Homo sapiens: one gene and its partners. The protein of the gene in region 2 purifies or fractionates together with the protein of the main gene of each other region. This does not show direct contact. Each region holds a gene or a part of one and is shown on either strand. Other genes may lie near its edges.

Evidence for each region. The genes of interacting proteins can lie anywhere in the genome.
Region 1: the proteins of LYZL1 (region 2) and CHST12 purify together in Homo sapiens (affinity purification with mass spectrometry; 2 studies listed by BioGRID and IntAct, with this or other methods). This does not show direct contact.
Region 3: the proteins of LYZL1 (region 2) and FRAS1 purify together in Homo sapiens (affinity purification with mass spectrometry; 2 studies listed by BioGRID and IntAct, with this or other methods). This does not show direct contact.

The regions. Positions count from the first base shown.
Region 1 is NC_000007.14:2,406,044-2,414,068, forward strand, and holds part of CHST12 (carbohydrate sulfotransferase 12), read left to right. Parts: intron 1-8,025. UniProt on the Homo sapiens protein: Catalyzes the transfer of sulfate to position 4 of the N-acetylgalactosamine (GalNAc) residue of chondroitin and desulfated dermatan sulfate.
Region 2 is NC_000010.11:29,284,276-29,292,637, reverse strand, and holds the start of LYZL1 (lysozyme-like protein 1 precursor), read right to left. Parts: upstream 3,569-8,362; 5' UTR 3,521-3,568; coding exon of another isoform or gene 3,408-3,520; intron 796-3,407; coding exon of another isoform or gene 771-795; coding exon 632-770; intron 120-631; coding exon 1-119.
Region 3 is NC_000004.12:78,535,756-78,543,780, reverse strand, and holds part of FRAS1 (extracellular matrix organizing protein FRAS1 isoform 1 precursor), read right to left. Parts: intron 6,787-8,025; coding exon 6,581-6,786; intron 4,488-6,580; coding exon 4,341-4,487; intron 3,251-4,340; coding exon 2,657-3,250; 3' UTR 1-2,656. UniProt on the Homo sapiens protein: Involved in extracellular matrix organization. Required for the regulation of epidermal-basement membrane adhesion responsible for proper organogenesis during embryonic development. Involved in brain organization and function.

The DNA of each region.
Region 1 (8,025 bases), on a different chromosome or scaffold from region 2:
GAGCCATCAGTGGGAAAAGACGGGTTATTGATGATACTGAAACACATGCGGCTTGTTTGTCATTTAAAAAAACCGTACATCTTGAGTTTCGATTCTTAAGTTGTCTTTCTTTTCGGAGAGTAGCTGTTAGTTTCACACTTGCTTAGTGGGTCTGTGGCTGCAGGCGGGACTGTGGTTCTCCAGCCCTGGCCCACAGATGTGCCTGGAGATAATTGACTCTCCAACTTATTACTTCCTGCTGTTAAGGTGGTGGTTTCTGTAACTGTTTAGAAACTTTAAAGATATTTCAGAGAAGAATGGGAGACAGGTACAGTTGAGTACGGGGTGGGGGCACAGTTGAGTATGGGGTGGGGGCACAGTTGAGTACGGGGTGGGGGAACAGTTGAGTATGGGGTGGGGGCACAGTTGAGTACGGGGTGGGGGCACAGTTGAGTACGGGGTGGGGGCACAGTTGAGTACGGGGTGGGGGCGCGGTTGAGTATGGGGTGGGGGCGCAGTGCTGAACAGGGCACAGGAGGAGGAAGCGAACAGGGACCCTTTGGCTCCCAGAACATGACCAGCTGGGGCTTTTCCCTGTAGACAGGAGGATGGATGTGTCTTTGGGGAATCTGAGTAGCCCAAGAGAAAAGACCTAAAATTAATGACATCAGGAGGTCCCCAGTCAGCAGACCCAGCTGGATCCCTTGCTAACGAAGCCCGTCATTAATAACCCCCTCCCAGTGTTCAAGGCATCAAGCTTTAAAAATCCCCATCCCTTAAATATGAGCAGATAACCAAGGGCATCTGAAGAAAACCTCTGCTACAGGAGATTGAGACCAGAATACACACTGGGAAACCAGAGAGCGTGCAGGAAGGAGCCTTAGAAAGCAGGCTGTCATTAATGTCCACGCGGAGGTGAGCGAAAATATCGCGAACATGAGGCAAGAACAGGAAGCTCTAAAAAAAAGCCACCAAAAGGAGTATTCGAATATCCAAAAAGAGAACTCTCGGATGTAAAAAAAAAAAATAAAAGCAGAAATAAGAAAATCAGTTAGTGGGTGAAAGATAAAGTTGAGGAACTCCCTCAGAAAGTAGAACAGAAAAGCAACGAGGTGGCAAATGAGAGAAAAAAGAAACGGAAAGGATCAGATCAGGAAGTCAGCAGCTGAATAGTAAGAGCTTCAAAGCTGAGGTGAGAGGATCGTTTGAGGCCAGGAGTTCAAGACCAGCCTGGGCAACATAGCAAGACCCCCATCTCTACAACAAAATTTAAAAATTAGCCAGGTGTGGTGGTGTGCACCTGTAGTCCCAGCTACTTGGGAGGCTGAGGTGGGAGGATCACTTGAGCCCAGGAGTTTGAGGCTGCAGTGAGCTGTGATCATGCCACTGCCATCCAGCCTGGGTGACAGAGCAAGACCCCATCTCTAAAAAATAAAATAAAATACATTTTAAAAAGTTTCCAGAAGAAAAAAATAGGGAAAACAGGATGAAATTCACAAAATAATTTCCTAGAACCCAAACTTTCTGGGTTAAAGAGGCTCACCCAGTGGCCAGTACCACGGGTGAAAATGCAGGTATCCTTCACTTTCATAGCCTCTTCACTTCTCAGCTTGGATATTAAAAGCTTGGGAAGGCTGGGTGTGGTGGCTCATGCCTGTAATCCCAGCAATTTAGGAGGTAGGTGAATCACTGAGGTCAGGAGTTCGAGACCAGCCTGGCCATCATGATGAAACCCCATCTCTACTAAAAATACAAAAATTAGCCAAGCATGGTGGTGGGTGCCTGTAATCCCATACTCAGGAGGCTGAGGCAGGAGAATTGCTTGAACCCAGGAGGCGGGGGTTGCTGTGAGCCCAGATCGTGCCACTGCACTCCAGCCTGGGCAATAGAATGAGACTCCGTCTCAAAAATAAAATTTAAAAAATTAAAAGTCTGGGCAGCAAACTTGGATAGTGAGAGAGGCTGAGTTTCAGATAAAGACTAGTGAGAGCTTGGGAGGGGAAGGATTTATTTGAAAGCATGTCTGCAGCTGTTGACCCCAGAATTTGGATAGTGAGAGTTCAGAGGCCAGGCGCTGTGGCTCACGCCTGTAATCCCAGCACTTTGGGTGGCCGAGGTGGACGGATCACTTGAGGCCAGGAGTTTGAGACCAGCCTGGCCAACATAGTGAAACCCTGGCTAATACAAAAATTAGCCAGGTATGGTGGCAGGTGCCTGTAATCCCAGCTGCCCAGGAGGCTGAGACAGGAGAATTGCTTGAACCTGGGAGGCGGAGGTAACGGTAAGTGGAGATCATGCCATTGCACTCCAGCCCGGGCAACAAGGGTGAGACTCCGTCTCAAAAAAAAAAAAAAAAAAAAAAAAAAAAGATCCTTGCGTACCCTCTCCAGGACATACTGTTGTGAAATCTCAGAACAAGAGGAGAAAGTAAAAACAAATCACAAATAGGTCATCACAGGTCAAGAGGCAGAAGGTTAGAACATGTGGAAAAAGGCAGAAGAACTAACTACAATTAAAATGAAAAGAAGCAGAAGGGCTTGGGCTTTTTCAAAGCAGCACTGGGTGGCAGGAGACGGGAGGGCCTTGCTTGAGAAATTCTGAAGGATGCATTTGCAGCCTGGAAGTCTACACTCAGGCAAGGGAGGGTAGGGTAAAGACAACTTCAGACTTGCTCCCAGATTTGTTCCTCATGCTTTAAGGAGGTGATTGGCAGATGTAGTCTCCCCAGATGAGGCAGTAAGTCTAGACTGAGAGAGACTGGCTGGTGGGAACAGGATTTCCCCCAGGTGAGAGGTGAGAAGAACCTGCTGAAGGGAAATCCCAGCCAGGTGCTGGTGTGAAGAGCAGACATGTCCTGACCCCAGCTGGTCAGAGGCTCCAAGAGGAGATTCTTTGGGAGAAGATGAAATTAGCAGGACACCTGACATGCTGCAGCATCTGGAGAGGAGTTGATACAGTTGGCAGAGTTGGGGCGGGATTAGTGATAAGTACTAAACAAAGCAAATGAAAACACAAGGCTGTTATTAGTTCCAGGGAAAATAAACCATCGTGCGGGAAACGAAAAATAATTATGGTGTACTACAAGGCGCAGCTGTGGATAGCCTCGCCGCAATGATAGTAATTTATGTAAACACTGACTGCTGCTCTAATTGAAATTATGATGCACCTGGGCAGAGAAGGTGTGGGGAGGAGAGCGCTGCATTTTCGCCTGTCGCCTTGGGAAGTCAGTCGCTAATGCCCCAAGCTGAACAACCAAGGTTCACTCTGAAGGCAGACATTAAAAGAATTAGCTAAAAAGAATTATGGAGCGGGTAGGGCGTGGTGGTTCGCACCTGTAATCCCAGCACTTCAGGAGGCCGAGGCAGGAGGATTGCTTGAGTCCAGGAGTTCAAGACCAGCCTGGGCAACATGGCGAAACCCTGTCTCTACTGAAAATACAAAAATTAGCCAGACATGGTGGCCTGTGTCTGTCTCAGCTCCTTGGGAGGCTGAGGTGGGAGGATCACTTCACTTGAGCCCAGGAGGTGGAGATTTTAGTGAGCTGAGATCGAGCCATCACACTCCACTCTAGCCTGGGTGACAGAGCAAGATCCTGTCTCAAAGAAAAAAAAAAAAAAAGAATCATGGAGAAGGGCGGAGGTGAGAAAGGGAAGCAGGGACAGAGACTGTTGAGTTTCTTAATAAACTTCACCTCACGGAATGATTTCACTCTTTCATGGATATGTATGTGTGGCATTGAATTGACCCAAATGGGAACAGTCTCAGATGGGCTTTCTGCTCTGATGGAATGGCGGCCCTCGCCTGCCTCTGTGCACAGGCCCTGTTAACAGGGAGGGTTTCCTTGCTCTGATTTCCTCTTGGTTATTGTCATTGTTCTCTGTATGCTGTCTCGTCGTTGTGGTCATTTATCAGAGATTCTGAGCACTTTTTTTTTTTTTCCTTTCAGGCAGAGTCTCACTCTGTCACTCAGGCTGGAGTGCAGTGATATGATCTCATTGCAGCCTCTGTTTCCTGAGTTCAAGCAATTATGATTACAGGCCTGAGCCGCCACGCCCGGCCGAGCGCTTTCTTTCGTCGTTTTCCAAGGGGGTTTTAAAACATACCGACCAGTAGAGAGAGCAGTATTATACATCATCCTTCACCTGTCCCCAAGTTTCAGAAATTAGGCAATCAGAGTTTGTCTGGTTTTTGTTAGAACATCACCTCTTTCTTGAGCAAGTACTGAGTGCCAGATGCTACTGTAAGCCTTGAGAATACCCGCTGTGAGGCAGGACGAGGACCTCCCTTTTAAGTCAGTGCAGGAAGACAGTGAGTGGATTAACTGGTGTATATGAGCTATTTGAGGCCAGGCATGGTGGCTCACGCCTGTAATCCTGACATTTTGGGAGGCTGAGGCAGGAGGATGGCTTGAGCCCAGCAGTTCAGGGATTCTGCGATTGCACCACTGCACTCCAGCCTGGGTGACACAGTGAGACACTACTCTAAAAATAATAAATAAAAGATTTGAGGTAGGGATGGGATAAATGCTGCTATGAAGAAAACCAGGGTATGGGGAGTGCAGGGTAGAGACTGGGATCTACTTTCTCAGGGTGGTTAGGGAAGGCTTGCTGAGGAGGTGAGCGTCAAGCAGAGATCTGAAGGAAGCGTGGGACTGCCCTGGGATTCCCCAGCTGAGGGATGGTGGTGCAGAGGCCCAGCAGCAGGAGCCTGCTGGGTGCGGTGGATGAACGGCAAGGAGACTGTTGAGGCTGGAGAGGGTCGCCGAGGGGGACTGTGATAGAAGAGGAGATCAGTGGAGTCCTGGTCACGGGCCATCAGAAGGACTCGAGATAGGAAGCCACTGATCCAACTTTTAATAGAATAACCGTGGCTTTGGGGTTGAAAATGGATTGTGTGGGCCTGAGAGCAGAAGCAGGGAGACTGGTTTGGAGCCTGTTGCAATAACGCAGGTGAGAGCTGATGGTGATTGGGGCAGGGTGGGGTGTAGGTAGGGCAGAGGGGACTTGACAAGTTAGAGCCTGGATAACTATTTACTTTTTTAAATTATTTATTTATTTATTTTTAAATTTTGAGATGAGATCTCACTCTGTCATCCAGGCTGGAGGGCTGGAGTACAGTGGTGTGATCATAGTTCACTGCAGCCTCAGCCTCCTGGGCTTAAGAGATCCTCCCACCTCAGCCTCCTGAGTAGCTGGGACTACAGGTGTATACTACCATACCTGGCTAATTTTTAAATTTTTGTACAGATGGCTTCTTGGTATGTTGCGCAAGCTGATCTTGAACTCCTGGTCTCAAAATATTATCCTGCCTTGGCCACCTAAAGTGTTGGGATTACAGGCATCAGCCACTGCACCTGGCTGAGCCTGGATATATTTTGCATGTAAAGCCCCAAGCAGGTTCTTAAACTGATCATAGTGAGATTTATTATCATTTTCTTCTGAAATAATTTCTTTGAGTTAACTTAACTCTTTTTTTTTTTTTTTTTTGAGACGGAGTCTCACTGTTGGCCAGGCTGGAGTGCAGTGGGGCAATCTTGACTCACTGCAACCTCCACCTCCTGGGTTCAAGCAATTGTCTCTGCCTCAGCCTCTCAAGTAGCTGGGATGATAGGTGCCAGCCACCACACCCAGCTACTTTTTGTATTTAGTAGAGACAGGGTTTTGCCATGTTGGCCAGGCTGGTCTCCTGACCTCAGGTGATCCACCCAGCTTGGCTTCCCAAAGTGCTGGGATTACAGGCGTGAGCCACTGTGCCCAGCCACGAATTGATTTAACTCTTAAGTCAGTTGAGTCAAGTGAGTTATCGTTTGGATTCTAGAGTCAAATACCTATGCAACAAATATTTGAGCCTTATGAGGAATACAGAAGGTACATGAGATATGATCCCTGTCTTCTAAGAACTTGAAACCCAGTTTGGGAATATTGGACTGGTATACGTGCGTGGATTTCCTGTCTACCTGGGAAGGGCCAACAGAGGGCTTAGAGACGGGAAGGAAGAGAACAGGGTGAGCTGATAGCCTCTGTGCTCTAGGACCGGCTCTGCAGGGAAGTTACTTTACTTCAAAGGCTAAGTTTGGGCTCAGTTTTCATTCAGGTCTCCTGGGATATAAATCAACATTCCATTCTCATCAATGTGACCGTTAATTACATATTTTTATTTGGATATACTGTCAGATATAGTTAACTGAACACAAATGAAGTAATTGTATAAGCAAATAAACCATAGTCCTGGAGGTACCGCGTGAAAATGTGTCTCACGATGGAGGTTTTAATGTAGTACCACTGTGTGTAAGTTCCAGGCAGCCCAGGACATGCAGAGAGCAAATATTGACACCAGGAACAGAAACTTTCCACATTTTTGTTGACTACAGCGATGGGAACTGCAGTGAATTATTTGCCTTATATAGTGTCTGTAAAGCTGGAAAAGAAGTAGGTAGTTTCTGGTCTTTGTGTCAGTAGCATAAATAAATAAACTTGAAACATTCTTGCGCTTCTTATTGAAGGTCATGTCACTTGATTTAGTGCTCAAGAGCTTGGTTATTTGGACACGAAGAAGCTACTTCCCTCAGCAGTAAAGGAAATAGAAATTTGACTGTCTAGTGAAACCTACCAATTCTGCCTAAACATATACTGTAGAGGCCAGCAGAGCAGAGTGGCAAGGAAGGGGGGCTCTCCAACAACAGCCTGAGTTCTGAGGCCAGCTCTAAACACTGCTAGCTATGTAGACTTGTGCAAGTCTGTAGCTACTTTTCCCAGTTTCATCCCAGTTCATGTGAGGATTAAACAAAGTAATATGTGCAAAGCCCTTAGAACATCACTTTTAACAACATGTTAGCTATTGGTATTGTTATTTTAAAATCAATTTGCAAATAGACAGTTTTTTTTTTTTTGACTTGATAACTGGCTCTTGGTAGAAAGCATGAGTAATAATAAAAATAACACATATTTGTGTAACAAATATTTGAGCCTGATGAAGACAGAGAGATAAGTAAGGCCGGGGCAGATTCTAAAGAAAGTGCTTTACTATTTTATCAACCACTTAGCTGTGTTTTCTCATTTTTGTGCTCTCGGTAGCTCTGGTTAGCAGAAAGGCCTAGTTTGTTCTTCTTTTGTAGATGGACTGAAAGTCAGACATAAAATGACTTGGCCCAGGCCACTCAGCAGAGGCCGGACTTGGTCTCAGTATCCCTTCCCTCTTCCTCCCAGTCCCTCCGTGTCTGTGCGGAACTCTGCACTGGTGTTTTCTTCTGTACTGTGGAAATTGGTGAGAGCTGGGCCATTGCATTCATATTAGAGAGAGAAGTGTTAGCCTCTGGAGATCAGCTTCATAAAACCACAAACATTTTCTTTTTAACTTTAAATCAAATGTATTGAGTATGATTTACATGCAATAAAACGTACCCATTTTAAGTATGCAGTTTGAGGAACGTGGCCAAACATATTCACCTTGTACCTGCCTCTGCAATCAAACAGTAGAGCATTTCCATCGCCCCGAGTTTCTGCGTGCTCCTCTGCAGTCTATGATTTTCATCACGATTTTGGCCTCTTTTAAATGTCATATAAATGGAACCACAGAACATGCAGTCTTTTACGTCTGGCTCCTTTTTCAGTGTGCGACCTGTGGCGTTCACCCATGAATCAGCACTTCACCCTTTTTACACTCACTTGCTGATGTACATTGGGGTTGTTTTCAGGTTTTAGCTTTTTTTTTTTTTTTTTTTTTTTGAGACAGAGTCTCCCTCTGTCGCCCAGGCTGGAGTGCAGTGGCGTGATCTTGGCTCACTGCAACCTCTGCCTCCTGGGTTCAAGTGATTCTCCTGCCTCAGCCTCCCGAGTAGCTGGGATCACAGGCACCCACCACCACACCCAGCTAATTTTTGTATTTTTAGTAGAGATGGGGTTTCACCATGTTGGCCAGGCTGGTCTTGAACTTCTGACCTCAGGTGATCCACCCACCTCGGCCTCCCAAAGTGCTGGGATTACGGGCATGAGCCACCACGCCCGGCCAGTTATCTCATTTTAATTTGCATTTCTTTGATGACTAATG
Region 2 (8,362 bases):
TCCGCGTCTGCACCACGCGAAGCTGTTGATCTGGAAGATGCCATAGTCGATGCTGCCGTCATCCAGGACCGTCTGGGCTGTGGTGTTGTAGCCGCTCTCATAATATGCCATGCAGATCCCTGGAGGGGGGAAAGCCAGAAACGCCAGCAAAGGAAGTGCATCTTTTGCTCTAAGCTTGGTCTGAGGGCGAGTTTCCTTATCCTTGTTACCTGACTGCTTCCTCCCAATACACCTTGGGCAGGGCAGGGCGGGCATGCGCCCAGGGGGCACACGAGGGGCACATCGGGGGCTGGGATGGCACACCTGAAGCTGTACACCCAGTCAGGGGCTGAGCCTAATCTAGACCAACAGTCAGGTCCCCCCACTCCCCACAATGCCAGCAGAGGTGGCATTATTTTCCCCTTCCCTGGCTAGTGTCATAAGGACAGGACTCCAGGAATAAGGAAATGAGGGGCAGGGGAGGAAGGAGAGGAGACCCAGAGAGCCACAGTTAGGCTAGCAGCCACCCCTGAGTGCGGTGAGGGCAGAGCAGGGGTAGTTGGGAAGACACAGCAGGGAGTGTGGCCAGGACCTTCAACATCTCAGGGGAAAGGTCAAGGACAGAAGGAGAGCAGGAAAGAAAGAGTCTCACAGTTTCCAAGGCTGAAGCCCCAGTAATTGTCCAGGCCAGCCCTCGAGAATATTTTTGCCAGTTTGCAACGAGTGTAGATTTTGGACTCGGCGCCTGTGACCAGGCAGCCAATGAGGGTCAGAATGCCCGCAGCCTTCATCCTCAAAGCCTGCCGGAGACAGAACCTGCCAAAGAGCCGGAGAACAGGTCAGACGATCTTGGTTCAGGAACTTTGAAATCCAGCGGTGGTGACTGTGCACAGCCCTGCCTAGATGCTGCCTGTCACTTTGGTCATTCAGTGCCACCATCAGGGAAAACCGGCCACTCTACGGTCCAGGGAAGGAAGGCAACTGAAGGCTGTTTCCTTAATGCTTTTCCATACAGTAACTTTCAAGTCAATGCTGTGTTCTCAGGGTTAAGCAAGCAAAAAAATTAACCCTCCTTAATACACATCCAGGTGAAAACCACAGGGGGCATTTTTAGGATTTCTATTTTAATTCTATGAATGAAAAATAGAATACAGGGGTGAAACATTCCCTATACTGCTGACCCTTGAACAACATGGGTTTGAACTGCGTGGGTCCATTTATCCGTGAATTTTCTTCTGCCTCTGCCACCCCGAGACAGCAAGACCAACCCCTCCTCTTCCTCCTCCACCTCAGCCTGCTCAGTGTGAAGACAACCAGGATGAAGCCCTTTATGATGATCCACTTCCACTTAACAAATAGTAAATGTATCTTCTCTTCCTTATTCTTTTCTGAATAACATTTCATTTCTCTAGCTTACTTTATTGTAAGAATCCAGTACAGAAGACATAGAACATAAAAAATATGTGTTTATTGGCTATTTATGTTATCAGTAAGGCTTCCAGTCAGCAGTAGGCTATGGAGTCGTTAAGTTTCTGGGGAGTCAAAAGTTACATGCAGATTTTCAACTGAGCAGGCGTCGGTGCCCGTGACCCCTACATTTGTTCAAGGATCAACTGGATGTGTAGAAACAGACAGCCCATTTCAGCCACAGATGAAAGACACGTGGGCCTGTATGGAAAACTTTAAGGGTTATTGTTTGGGGGTTTATCGAAGAGTGAAGATTAAGCACCTACTCTTTCATTTTCTTTTCTTGATTCAGTTCCAAATGTGGGAGCTTTGCTTCCAAAGTATCAGTGCTTTTATTTATTTATTTATTTTTTGAGATGGAATCTCACTCTGTTGTCCAGGCTGGAGTGCAGTGGCGCCATCTGGGCTCACTCCAAACTCTGCCTCCCAGGTTCAAGCGATTCTCCTGCCTCAGCCTCCTGAGTAGCTGGGATTACAGGCGCCCACCACCACACCTGGCTAATTTTTGTGTTTCTAGTATAGATGAGGTTTCACACTGTTGGTCAGGCTCATTTCAAACTCCTGACCTTGTGATCTGCCCACCTCGGCCTCCCAAAGTGCTGGGATAACAGGTGTGAGCCACCATGCCCAGCCCAAAACATGAGTGTTTTATCTTAGATTGCAAATGCATTGCTTTGCTAAGCTTCACCACCAGTGCTCCGGGGGGCCTCCTAAAAGTCTGGCACCTGACTGGGGAGCAAGAGGGATGGAGGACAAAGCCTCATGAAAGGAGGAAAGCACCTGGGGGAGCAGAGGGGCAATAAAGAGACCCCTGCGGAATCATCTGAAATGGGAGTAGGATCAAGAGAGCTGTCTCCTGCTGCCTACTGATTTTCCACAATCTCTTCCCCTCTTGAAATAATGTCTTCCCCAAATACAACAGCCTTGCTGGGATGGGGTGAAGTGAAATTTCTGACAACTACTCGGGATCCTGAACTTGATGTTCTTACATATGTTCATCCCGTGTCATTTTCTGCACTTGCCTAGAAACTTCTCCAGTCATTAGTTTCTCTCCCTGGGGCTGGATTCCTGCATTGAAAGGCTAGGCCCAAAACAGGGATAAGTAGTCATCAGCAAGGCCACCGCACCAAGTAACAAGCAGGGCTTTAAGGTGACTAAGCAATAAGGTAAGGAACTGCATTGCATGAGGGGCATGTACATTACAAACGTGAATAGCAAGCGTGGGCAAACCAGGCCCGCTTTTGTATGTAAAGTTTTATTGAAACATAGCTACACCCATTTGGTAATATATCATTGGTGGCTGATTTCCAACTACAGTGGCAGAGTTCAGTAATTGTGTTTGAGGCCGTATAGACCACAAAGCCTAACATATTATTATCTGGCCCTTTTCAGAGAGAGCATGCCAGTCCGCTGTGTACAGCACTGTGTTAAGCTGTGAGGGACAGACAAACGAGGTTTAAGATGCAGAGCTAAGGCCAGGCATGGTGGGTGATACCTGTAATCCAAGCACTTTGGGAGGCTGAGGTGAGCAGATTGCTTGAAGCCAGGAGTTTGAGACTAGCCTGGGCAGCAAAGGTAGACCCTGCCTCTACAAAATATACAAAAATTAGCCAGGCATGGTGGTGTGTGCCTGTGGTCCCAGCTACTGGGGAGGCTGAGGTGGGAGGATCACTTGAGGCTGGGAGTTTGAGGCCATAGTGAGCCATGATTGTGACACTGCACTCCAGCCTGGGCAGCAGAGTGAGAGACCCTGTCTAAAAAAAAAAAAAAAAAAGAAAAGAAAAAAGAAAAAAAGATACAGAGCTTACAAATAGAGTTGGTTTCCATCCCCTGCCTTAGAATTTTACTGATCTCAAACAAGTCCAAAGAAAACCCGCAGCAATGATAACCCCAAGCATCATGTTCTACATCCTTCAAGAACCTGCCATTGCTGGTTCTCATAAGAGTAATTTAGGTCTTACTGAAAAGGCAGATTCCTGGTGCCTGCCCCAGAGGCTGACTTCTCAGTTGAGTCTGCGGAAGAAACACTGCTCCACTTAGTCGGTGACAGGCAGCTCAGGGGAGCGTCCTGCATCCCCTGAAGCCATGTCTGATTCTAACGAGGCGCGAGTAATCCTTTCCTAGCTCAAGAACATTTCTTTAGAGTGTTAGAGAAAGAAAAATTCTTAATCCTTTGTTTCTCACCACCTAGAGATGCTAGAATTCTACTTCTTGGCACTAAAAGCTGTATCATCCTGCATGCTTGTGTTCTGAGGCAGGTGATAACTGTCTTCTGGGGCTTAATACCTCTTGTTTTTTGTCTTTTCCCCTCAACAACCCTCCTCATTACACAACTTGGCCAGGGCCTCCTGTCCAAGTGAGAGCTCTTCTCTGAGGCGTCTGCAAACTTTATCACAAATTCCATTAATAAAGAAAGTTAAGCATGTATCCTCTTTAGATGTACATTGAGTTATAAATCATACTTCTGTACCTCAGTACTAATATGCTACATAAATTATCAACATACATAAAACTAAAATTTGAAAATTAATGACATAGAGGTGAAATTAACATTAAAAATTTATTAACAGCACATTTGCTATAGTCAAATTATTATTAATAAAATATTTTTGTAATAACATGATTTTATTATTTTTGAAAAATTTGGCTTAACACTTTGTGAATCAATAACTAAAGGGCTGTTTTCAAGGTCTATTTATTTCAATGTTCAGATTTAGTGACACATTTGAAATGAATTCTCATTAGAATATGTAGATCTAAGTAGAAGTTTATTGTTGGCTGCACCTAACTAATCGTTATATTTTCTTAAATTCCATCTGCCAATAATGCAAAGGTTTTGTTGAAATCTATTTTGAAGTTCATATAGTATTGCATTATACAGATACAACATAGCATACTTAGCCAATTTCATATTGATGCACACTTATTTTATTCTTCTATTGTAAACATATTACAACCAGTAATTTTGTACATATGTCATTTGTAACTTTACAAGAATATCTTGCTGGATCAAAGGGTATAATTTTGTAATTTTGCTAGATATTTGCCAAATTGCCTTTCACATGGGCTTGTATCAGGAAGATAGCACACTGTGTTATCAAATGTTTCAATATTTCTCAATATTAGAGATGAAACATAATTTTTCAGCAGAGTTTCAATTTCAACTTTCGTTATTTCAAGCTGCTTGAGGGTCTTTTTTATCTTTAGAAGCCATTAGTGGACTTCTTGTGAACAGTCTATAATATGAGAAAATGTATAGGTTTTTCCCTCAAACATCTTTTTCAAAATGCTTTGAAATAGGGATCTTACCAGTGAGAAAATAGAGACGGATTGTCTTTTTCTTTTTCAAAAATGCTTGCTTAGCAAGTTTTCAGATATGACGTAAATATACAAAAGCCATTTACAATCTTATATACTAGGAATAGAAAATAAGAGTTTGAAATAAAAAAAAATCCATTTACAATAGTACACAAATGCAAATGAAGTACTTAAATTTAAACCTAACAAAATATGTGCAGGATATATATACTGACAACTATAAGACAGACGGAAAATTAAAGAAGACCTGAGTAAATGAAAAAGACACACCATATTCATGAATTTGAAGAGTCAATATTATTAAGATTTAATACATAGATTTAGTGGAATCCCATTTAAACTCCCAGAAAAATTGTTTAGAAAATATCAATAAGAGGGTCCTAAAACTTATATGAAAAGGCAAAGGGACTAGAGTAGGCAAAACTATTCAGAAGAATAATAAAATTGAAGGACTCATATTGCTTGATTTTAGAACTTAATATAAAGCTGTAGTAATCAAGACAGGATGATATTTGTGGAAACAGACACATAGGACAGTGTAACAAAATAGAGAGCCTAGAAATAGTGTTACACATATGTAGTCAAGTAGCTTTTTATAAAGATGCAAATTAAATTCAATGGAAAGATGATGTTCCATTTAACACATGGTACTAAAATAAGACTGTCTATGTGCAAAACAACGAAAACAACAAAAATAAAACAAGGCATAAGGCATATTGAAGAATACATACCTTATATCTCATACAAAAATTAATTCAAGATGGATCAAAAGCCTAAATGTAAAAAGTGTGAAACGATGAAATTCTTTAAGTTAAATATAAAAAATCTGCAGGACCTTGGGTTTGGCAATGAAATTTTAGATATAACATCAAAAGCACAATCCATGAAAGGAAGAAAAAAAAACTGATTAGTTGGATTTGATCAAAATTTAAAACTTTTGCTCTTTGAAAGACACTGTTAAGGGAATGAAAAGATTAGCTACAGATTGGAAGAAATATTTACAAATCAATGTCTGATGAGATGAAAGCCTTGTATTCAGAATATATAAAGGACTCTTAGAATTCAACTATAAGCAAGCATATAACCCAATTAAAAAAAGGGCAAATGATTTAAGCAGACATTTCAAAGAAGATATACAAATGACAAGCATATGAAAAGATGATCAATATCATTGTCACCAGGAAAGAGTAAATAAAACCACAATTAGATATCACTTCTCACTAATTAGAATTGCTAAAATCAATTAGATGAAACCAAATGATGAAGACACAGAACTGTAAGAACTCCAATTTATCACTGGTGGAAATACAAATGGTACAGTCACTTTGGAAAACAGTTAGTCAGTTTCTCATAAAATTAAACATGGACTTATCACATAAACCGACAATTATACTCCTATGTATTTATTCAAGTGAATAAAAAACTTACATTCACACAAAAACAAGCTAACCCATGTTTATAGCAGCTTTATTCATAATCAATGAAAACTGGAAGCAACAAAGATGACCTTCAGCAGGCAAATATATTCAAAAACTATGATCTATCCATACAATGGAATACTACTCAGCAATGAAAGGAATGAGCTATTTGATTCCCGCAACAATGAGGATGAATCTTAAATGCATTTTGCTAAATAAAAGAAGGCAGACCCAAAAGATTACTATTATATATACGTATTATATATAATTCCATATATACGACATTATGGAAAAGGCAAAATTTATAGGGATGGAAAACAGTTCAGTGATTGTCAAGGGTTAGAGGAGAAATTGACTACAAAGGAACCACACACATTCTATTTTATTTTAGGTCATTGGAACTGTTCTCTATGATACTGGGGTAGTAGAAACATGGCTTCATGAATTTGTCAAAATCTGTAGACCCGTACACCACAAAGGGGGAACTTCATTGTATGCAAACTTTAAAAAAATCATCCAGGATGTTGGGGAATACCAGGATAGAATTTAGTCTGTGAGAAAAAGACCTAACTGTATTACAAACGTATAACATAACCTCACTGAAGGCGTGGGAAAAGAGATGCGGATCCAGGTAACTTTAGAAAACAGTGTTTTGACTGAATATCTAAAGTCTAAAGACAAAACAATCTGTACATAAACACTGTACTTCAGTTGGTGAATTCCCTTCTCCCTGGGGTAAGAGTTAGCAATTCTGAAACTACATGTAAACTAGCATTAAGCAAATGAAGAAAAACATTGCAGATGATGGGAGCCAGATTTCACACTGTCAGAGAGAGAAGTTAAAAACAAGCAAAAGAGAAAGACTAGAATTGAACTCTGTGACACTGGATTAGAGTTGGAGACATTAATATAAATCTGTCCATCTACCTAGAAACAGTGGCACTCCAGTAGCTATGGGCATTCTCAATACACAGACTTGCTTCTAATACCATTTTATTCTCCAGTAAAAGAAACCAGGACTCCTTAGAAAAGAAGCTGATTGCAGAACTGAGTCAGGGAAAATGCAAAATGAGCTTGGGGTATCTTGTTGGTGCCAAAGAATAAGGAAATGCTGAGGGTGGGGGAGGCACATGTCGAAGAGACACAGGAACCAAACTGAGAAAACCCCCCGATGGCCTAAACTGAGACAATCGCACAACAAAATAAACAACGATAGTACTGGATTCTAACACACAGAATAAAATAAATATATATGAGGACATACTGATATAAATAAATGATTGAATAAATAAATATCTGAGGACAAGAAACAAGTCTGTCTCTCAGAAGAATTCTAAGTAATCTATGTAGAAAATCCCCCTCCAGGAAATGGAGCTTAATTCTCCTCCCTTTGAGTAGGGGCTCGACTGACTGACTTGCTTCCCACAGATAGAATGCAGAAAGGGGAAAATGGCGACTTTCTGGTGAGGAAACCCAGCGGACTCTATCTTAGCCAAGTGATCCAGGTTAACCTCATCAGGGATGAGTCATGTTAGGTCCCCCTGATAGGACATGACAAGAAGGGCACCTCACCTCTGTGGTTTTCTTTCCCCGAAATCCATAACCCCACTCAAATCATGAGAAAACATAAATAAAACCCCAAAGGATGGACATCCACAAAATACCTGACCACTGCTCCTCAAGTATGTCAAAGTCAAGAAAAGCAAGGCTGAGAAAACGCTAGACTGGAAGAGACTAAGGAAGTGTGAGAACTAAAAGCAATGCGGTGTCCTGGATTGGATCCTGGGATAGAAAAAGGACATATTAGAAAAACGAGTGAAAGCTGAATAAAGCCTGCAGTTAATATATTGCACCAATGTTACTTTCTTGGTTTTGACAGACATGCTGTGGATGTGTAAGATGCTCATGTTAGGGAAGCTGGGAAAAAGGTATGTGGGACTCTGGACTCTCTGCACGACTTTTCTATAAATCTAAAATGATTCCAAAATAAGTTTAAAAATCTGTTAGCATACTGTTGATAGCCACTTATCACAGAAAAGGTGAGCAGATTTGAACTGCTTGATTATTGTAAAATAAAAGTGACTAATCTCTACAGTGGCCAATGACTGTAACTACATTGCTAATAAGAAACCCAGCACACATGTGCCACAAAAAGTTTTCAAACTCACTCCTCTTCTCAT
Region 3 (8,025 bases), on a different chromosome or scaffold from region 2:
GACTGAAATATAATCCACATTAGTCATCAAATTACTTGATTCCTATAATGAAGTATGAAACAAACCAAATGAATAATTCTACATCAAAGGGGTATATCTCATCTCCACATCTCTTAACACTATTTAACAAGTGTGCATCCACTAGAGAAGTACTGGCATTCAATAACATACATTTAGTGGGGTGAAAGGCAGAAAGAAAGGGAGGCAGAAATACTGCAAGGGCTTTCCTTTCACACACAGTTTCCTATCTCACTCTTGCCCTTGTCATTTCAGACCTTGTACGTGGCGGTTGCTGGGAGCACTCTGGGGCTCAGTCTTTAGTCCTTCCCACTCTAGCTTCATTCTGCCACCTCTGTACTCTTCCCATGCAATGTCCTATTCAGCAGTAATGGAAGGGGTGTGCAAGAAGAATATGTGGGCAAATGGAAAGGTGCTGCTTTAACGTGTAAGCATTCTGGCACTTGGAGCAGTTACACAGTTACAAATAATGGGCCAAATGGAAGTTCGCTCTACAAATTAGCATTCACTCTCTAGGTTGTTCTGGAGATTCTGTGCCTGGCTGATCAGCTCTCCAGCCATGAGATACCAATTCTGGGTGTCCATGAGGCTGATACAGGAGTTCTGCCCTGAATTGCCCAAGCTGGTCTTAAGTAGCACCTGACCAGTCAGGAGTTTCAGACTCTGGGCTCACCCCAACTCATTCTCTCCTGAAAACCTGACACTCATCTCAGAATGCTAAATTAGATTTTGCTCTAAATCTCCTGTTCTGGATGCCAATTCATAGTCTCATCTCCTGCTGATGATACATTTTTATGAATTTTCTGCTCATGCTTCCTTAGGACCACCGCCAGAGTCATGCCTTTGTAAAGCGGTGTTTCTTTCCTCCAAGAAAAGGTTATCTCATAATCCAAGTAGAGAAGATAATTGTTTTCCTCTCTCCTCCCTTGTGATATTGCCACCATACTCTCTCACTTCCCCTTCCTAAATTTACTCCCCATCATTCACCCATGACACCATTCATTCATTCAACAAACATTTCTGGAGTGCTTGTTACATGCAAGGCACTGTTGAAGAATGAAAGGCGTGGCTCACAAAGGTCCTACTTTCAAGGAGCTTGGAGTCTCACAGAGCTGCCTAGAACCTTTCACAGTTCATCCTTTCTAGCTTTTAGTAGCGAAATGTTACTAGTTTGGAATGTTCTCAAAGAGCTTGAGTCATTCTCATACAAATATTACACAATGTGAAGGCTCTGTTATTTGCTTGGTGACTATGGTGTGCCATGCATCAGAAGAGGACATGTCTTTTACTCTCGAATAATGAAATTGTGCCTCCAATTCAAAACAACATGGCATGCACGCTTATGTTTCCGCCAATAAGGCAGAAACAGAAGAGAAACAAAAGCAAGCTGTGTGTAGCCTACACAAAATAGTTAAGCTGATACTTGAACACTAAATTATTTTAGAGCCATGTGTTCATGGCCTTGTCATGTGCTGATATGGTAAAAATAATTGCCTGAGCTACCAGAAAAGAACCCCTCAAAGAGAAATCCCTGAAATACTGCACCAGGAATAGTGCCTCTGTCTGCTGTGTCACACACAGCAAGGAGAACCAGCATGTATCTGTTAAGTCTGATTTCACCCCAACCTGGGCTTTCTCCTAATTTGCCTTATTCAAATGAATCACTTACTTTCCCGAAGCACTAACAGAATAAAAAACCATACCTAGGACATGGGATTGTCTGTTACAGGAACGGGCAAAGACCGGAGTAGGAGGAAAGTGTGGTGGGTTTTCTTTAAAGCATTTATGGCAATGTTGAATTAAAAGGCCGTAGTACATTGATCCTGTTTCGCAGCATCCTTGGTCAGGGATGGATGTCTCAGTGCCACATAAACTAGTTGGGAACAGACACCTCCCTGGGGTGAAGGGCATCACTAATGTGCTCTGATACGCCTGCCAGGCCCCTCCTTAACTCGGGTTTCAGTCTCCCCCTTTGTAGGAGGGAGTTCTCTGTGGCTGAGGAGGCAGAGGCTCCCGTGGTTTTCAGAGGATTTTACTTAAGCACACTGAAATCCCCAGGTAAAAAGGGCTCTGGAAAAGCAAAGTACAATTAGAGGCCAAGGAGCATACGCTGTCAAGTGAAATCATGAGCAAATATATGTGTTGTGTCGATTAGCAGAATTTTTAATGGAATCTGGGTGTCAGCAGTTCATACTCTGCTGTCTGGGGACTCAGGAAAAGCCCTGTAGGAGAAAGCTGGGGCTGGGGGAGGGAACCAAAGGCCCGTACCTACTTCTTCTCTCTGAGATCTGCCATGGTACTCTACCCAGTCCTCTCATCTCCATCTGCTAACCTAATTGTTCAACTCCTGTCCTGATACTAAAGTACTTGTTTTCTAAGACCAGCCTTACAGAAGGAGCTGTGTACAGTTGTTGACACTATTAAAGGGATCTACGGAAATAACTGTAATACTCTGGGGTTCTCAGTGGTTCTTTGCTGAATGAGGTAGCTCAGTTGTGAGTTGATGCATGTGATGTGTGCTGTCTGCCACTCAAAGCTATAGTTTTCCCTTTTTTATCTGCGAGATTATAAAAATACCAGTATTTCCCCCCATTTTATAAAAATGATTTTAGAAAAAAATACACATAGGTCTCCTCCATTAAACTTCTGTTCCATCTTGTAAATTGTTGTGAACTCTGACTTCTAGATTCAGTCTTTTGACTTTAGCACCTTTGAACGTGTAAGCCGCCTCAGGCTCACTCAGGATGTTGACGTTCCGCACAGTGCAGTAGTGTCTATTCACGTTCTTCTCCACCCGGTCCGGGTGCCTCTTGGGCACTTCTACCTTGGTATTCAGAGGATATTCTTCCAAAATGTCCTCTGCGGGCTTCTTCTTCCTCTGTTTCTGGCATTTCCTGTTGATAAAACAAGCCACCAAAAACACCAGAAGTAGAAGCATGATTGCAGCCAGGGCACTGCCAATGGACGCCCCAGTCTGTGACAGGGACGCAGCTACCGCCAACTCTTGCATCTCCAGATTCAGGGACTTCATATTGGTGCCATTCTTGACTTGGTCTCCTTCATTGTCATAGATGAGGGAATCATCAAGGATCAGCTGGCCATCGGGCTCTACCAGGTCCCTTCGGTTGCGTCTGAGTGGAGCTGTGAGAGAGCGCTGGACCCGGGGCCCTGAGATGGTGTCAGGGCCAATGATGTAGATGACCTGGAGATACCACTGGTGTCCTGCTTCCACCTGCAGGGGGACAAACCGAACATGTTGTTGTTGCCCACAGACCACCTCTGAAGAAAGGAAATGGAAGGATAATTGCCACTATATGCCTTGATAGATAACTGATTTCCAGAAAAGCATTAGCAATGGTTGGTGTCTACTAATACATAGAGAACTGAACCAGATATGGGTTCTATTTTATTTCCAAATTAAGATGATCTTGAGTCAGCTATTCGGATTCTTTTTTGTTTCCCTATGTGTACATGGAATAGCCTAAGAAATTATCTTTCATGGTCTCTTTAGCTAAGTGAATGCTTATATTTGTCTGTCTTTATTGATAGCAGTGAAATAATAGCATTAAAAACCACATTTATTTACAGTGACCTTCAATTATGTGTTATGCCAATTTACTATTTATTGGTGAACTTCAGCGAAAATGGAGTCATTCAACAAAATATTCACTAAACATATACTCTGTGCATAATACACAGATACGTGACAAACATTTTCTAAACACCTTCTCAATCAGGCTATATCATCAAGTATTTTATCTCCCCCTCATCTTCCTCCATTAAAATGCTTCATGGTTTCGAAATAACTTCTGAAGCATGATAATAGTTCTGAAGGGTCATAGATTAATATTTAGAGACAAAAAAAGTGAAATTTCATCTTGAAAGTTCATGTTCATTGCTAAGACTTAAGGTATTTGTGTTTATCAAATAGTAATTCTTGCTATTCTAAATTGCTGTATTGTATTATGATTTTTTAAATGTTTTTCATATGTCCGTGAAAATCAGCTGGGCTAGCATAGAACCAAAAAGGGATGCAATATAAAAGAACTTAGGAAAAACTGGAGTGTCATATGCAGCCATGATGTGCACAATGACAAGTGACTATATGCAAAGTCAATAATTGTATAATTGTTTTGGTCTACTGGGGATACATGTGAAAATTTTGGGTGGGTGATAAGCTTAACAATAAGAAAAGATCTGCCAGCAAGAATGGCAGAATGTTGAAGAATCCAGAGATGTTGCAGTCCTCCTTCTTTTTTTTTTTTTTTTCAAGCTTTAAAGTAGACTTGGTCTTAAGCTTCTGTTCTTCTCACCAAACTCACCTTATAGAGTGCATCTACTTTTAGAGTAAATCCATCCACACCTGGCATGTTACTGACCACATGGAAATCAGGCAACTCAGAGGCAAAGTGAGCCTCAAAAGGCACATCATGGAAGTACTTATCAGTTACCTCTGGCTGATTGCGGTCCTAGGATTTCAGAAAAAAGAAATGCAAGATTTAGAAAGATGGTTCCACTATATTGGTAGGTGGCAGTGACTGGGAGGAGAAAAGTACTCATCACTCCTGGCTTTAGGTTGAGTTGAGAGAGTATGTGCTGTGAAGCCCTCTCCATAAGTCAGTGGCTGCCTGATATGGTTTGGCTGTGTCCCCACCAAATCTTATCTTGAATTACAGTTCCCATAATCCCCATGTGTCATGGGAGGGACCCAATAGGAAGTAATTGAATCACGGTGACAGTTACCTCTATGATGTTCTTGTGATAGTGAGTGGGTTCTCATGAGATCTGATTTTTTTTTTTTTTTTTTTTAGATGGAGTCTTGCTCTGTCGCCCAGGCTGGAGTGCAGTGGCGCGATCTCAGCTCACTGCTGGCTCCACCTCCTGGGTTCATGCCATTCTCCTGCCTCAGCCTCCGGAGTAGCTGGGACTACAGGAGCCTGCCACCACACCAGGCTAATTTTTTTGTATTTTTAGTAAAGACAGAGTTTCACTGTGTTAGCTAGGATGGTCTCAATCTCCTGACCTCGTGATCCGCCCACCTCGGCCTCCCAAAGTGCTGGGATTACAGGCTTGAGCCACCGCGCCCGGACCTCTGATGGTTTTTTAAGAGGCTTTTTCCCCTCTGCTCGGCACTTCTTGCTGCCCCTATGTGAAGAAGGATGTATTTGCTTCCCCTTCTGCTATGATTGTAAGAGGCCTCCCCAGCCATGCTGAACTGTAAGTCAATGAAACCTCTTTCCTTTATAAATTACCCAGTTACAGGCATGTCATTAGCAACATGAGAACAGACTAATACACTAACTCTGGGAACCCACTGTCCTTTTCAAAAGGACATGTGGTGGCTTTTGTGATCTCAAAATGCAAAAAGTGGGATATTCTAGCCCAATACTTCTCAAGTTATTTGGTCTCAGGACCCTTTACACACTTACAAATCAAGGACCCCAGAGAGTTTTTGTTTATGTGACTTATATCTATCGACATTTACTCGGTTAAAAATTAAACCTGAAAAAATTTTAAGTGTTTACTTATTAATTCATTTTAAACTGACAATAAGAAACTCATTACATGTTAACTTAAGTAAGATATTTTTTAGTGAAAATACCTAAATTCATTCCCTTCCTCAATAAAGAGAGCTGGCAATGTTTTACATTTTTGTAATCTCAGGGAAAAAACTGGATTCTCATAACTGCTTCTGAATTCCATCAGTTGTGATATGCTGTTTTGTCTAAAGTGTATGAAGAAAATCTGGCCTCATAAAGCTATGTAGTTAATAGCTTTTTCAAACAATTATGGCTTTTTTTTTTCTTTTTTTTTTTTGAGATAGGGTCTTGCTCTGTTGCCCAGGCTGGAGTGCAGTGGTGCAATCTTGGCTCACTGCATCCTTGACCTCCCAGTCTCAAGTGATTTTCTCACCTCAGCCTCCCAAGTAGCTGTGACTACAAGTGCATGCCACCAAGCCCAGCTAATTTTCAAATATTTTTTTGTAGATATGGGGTCTCCTTATGTTTCTCAGGCTTGTCTCAAACTCCTAAGCTTAAGTGATTCTCCCACCTCAGTGTCCCAAAATGTTGGGATTACAGGCATGAGCCACCACGCCCTGCCTCTTTTTTGATACTAAATCAAAACTTGGTGAGTGGTTATTTTTTAAAGATTCATTACAATGTGGAATCTGAAATTTTATTGATAAACTTTTTAAACTCTCTAAACTCATGAGGGAATAAGTATGAAAAAAAGAGTCATCATCATATTATTTTGAAAGTAATTTTGACTCTGTAGACTCCCTGAAAGAGTATGGGGACACTCCAGGTCTCTGAACCATACTCTGAGAAACATTGGCCGAGAGTTTCCTTTTCTGAGGACATCAATGGAAGTTTGTCTTGTTACTCATCGTAACTACCACCTATGTACTAGTATTTAGCTGATCTGAAAGAAACAACAACACAAACATATATAGAGAAGAAAATATCAAGAGTGAGCTCTATCTACTTTAGGCAGAAGTCATAGCTGAGGAAATCTGCTCAAGTGTCTGCTCTTTAACACTAATAGTGAGAACTTAGCATACCAACAGCAGGAATCTGTGTTTTAGGTGTTTGTTTGGCTGAATGCATCCATACTGGGGCCCTTCATTGTAGATTGTCCCCGTGGGATCAAAGAAAGGCACATAACCATCCTTGCCCGTACAAAGATAGACTTTCTCCAGCTGGAGTTTGTAAGCAGAATTAAGATTTTGTTCTGGATTCCAAAGTACTCGGCCATAAAGGATTTGACCTGAAAAGATTGAAAGGTATTAATTAGGTCAGACTTTAAGATGAAAGAAAAACAAATGTCAAGGGTTGAAAGGGGTTAAACATGCTCCCTTAAGAGTGAAAAGCACTTTTCTATGAAGAGCTCCATGATTCCATGTGCCCCTAAAATACTCATTCATTTATTGCTTCGTTTTTATTCTTATTTTCTTTTTTTCTCTGAGTTTTCTTGCTAGGGAACATTTATGCCTTCTTTTTTTCAATAAGCATTAATTAAGCATTTAAGGGAAGCAAAGTATTCTGTTATGCACAGGGGATACCAAGGTGTGTGAGATGCAGTTGAGAGGATGGAAACAAACTCACAGTGATTGACTAAAATAGGCTCATATTTATCAAACTCATACTATTTTCCAGGTACTGTACCAAGTCCTCTCATGTAATAACTCATGGAGTGCTCACAATTTTGCAGATGAGAAACCTGAGGCACTGAGTGGGGCTAAGTGATTTGCTGAAGGTCACAAAGCAAGCAAACGGTGAGGGTGGGATTCCAAGTCAAGGTACTATGCTCTCAAACCAAACCACCACAATACTTTATTAATCACCCAAATGCTATACTGTTACATTCCACAATAGAGGAAGGTATGTCATGTTAAGAGAGCATGAAACCAGGTACAGAAATCTGCCTAGGGAATGGTATGGAAGGTTTCAAGAGACATGATATTTGAGCAGTATCCTGAAACACAAGTAGGCATTTGTCAGACAGTGCATTTGGGGTGGGAGTGAGAGGCAGGAGAGAACACTCTAGGCAAAAAAAAAAAAAAAAAAAAATCCATGTACAAAATACTGAATGCTTCAAGGATGTAAGCCCTGGTGTAGGCCGTTTCCTATGTGTCGGCTATGGCACCAAGCTCTTTACATGCAACTAACTTACTTAATCCTCCCAAGAGCCCAAAAGATAGCTTCAATTATTATTCCCATTTTTAAGTAACTTATCCAAGGTTCCACAGCAATGATGCAGTGGGAGGAGGATTTTGGAATTAGCACAAATCTGGCTAATTCCAAATGCTCATCCCAAACATTTACTATGTGGTGCTAAGTAAGTCAGTGTGACAAGAGTGGAGGGTGTGTAGAAGCTCTGGCAGGAGAGGCTCCTGGGGACATAGACAAACCGTGCTGAGGAGGCTGGACTTGAATATATAAGTAATAAGAAACACTGGAGGGTTTTAAGCGGAAAGGTAGTAACACACTTGGGCCTTAGAAACAT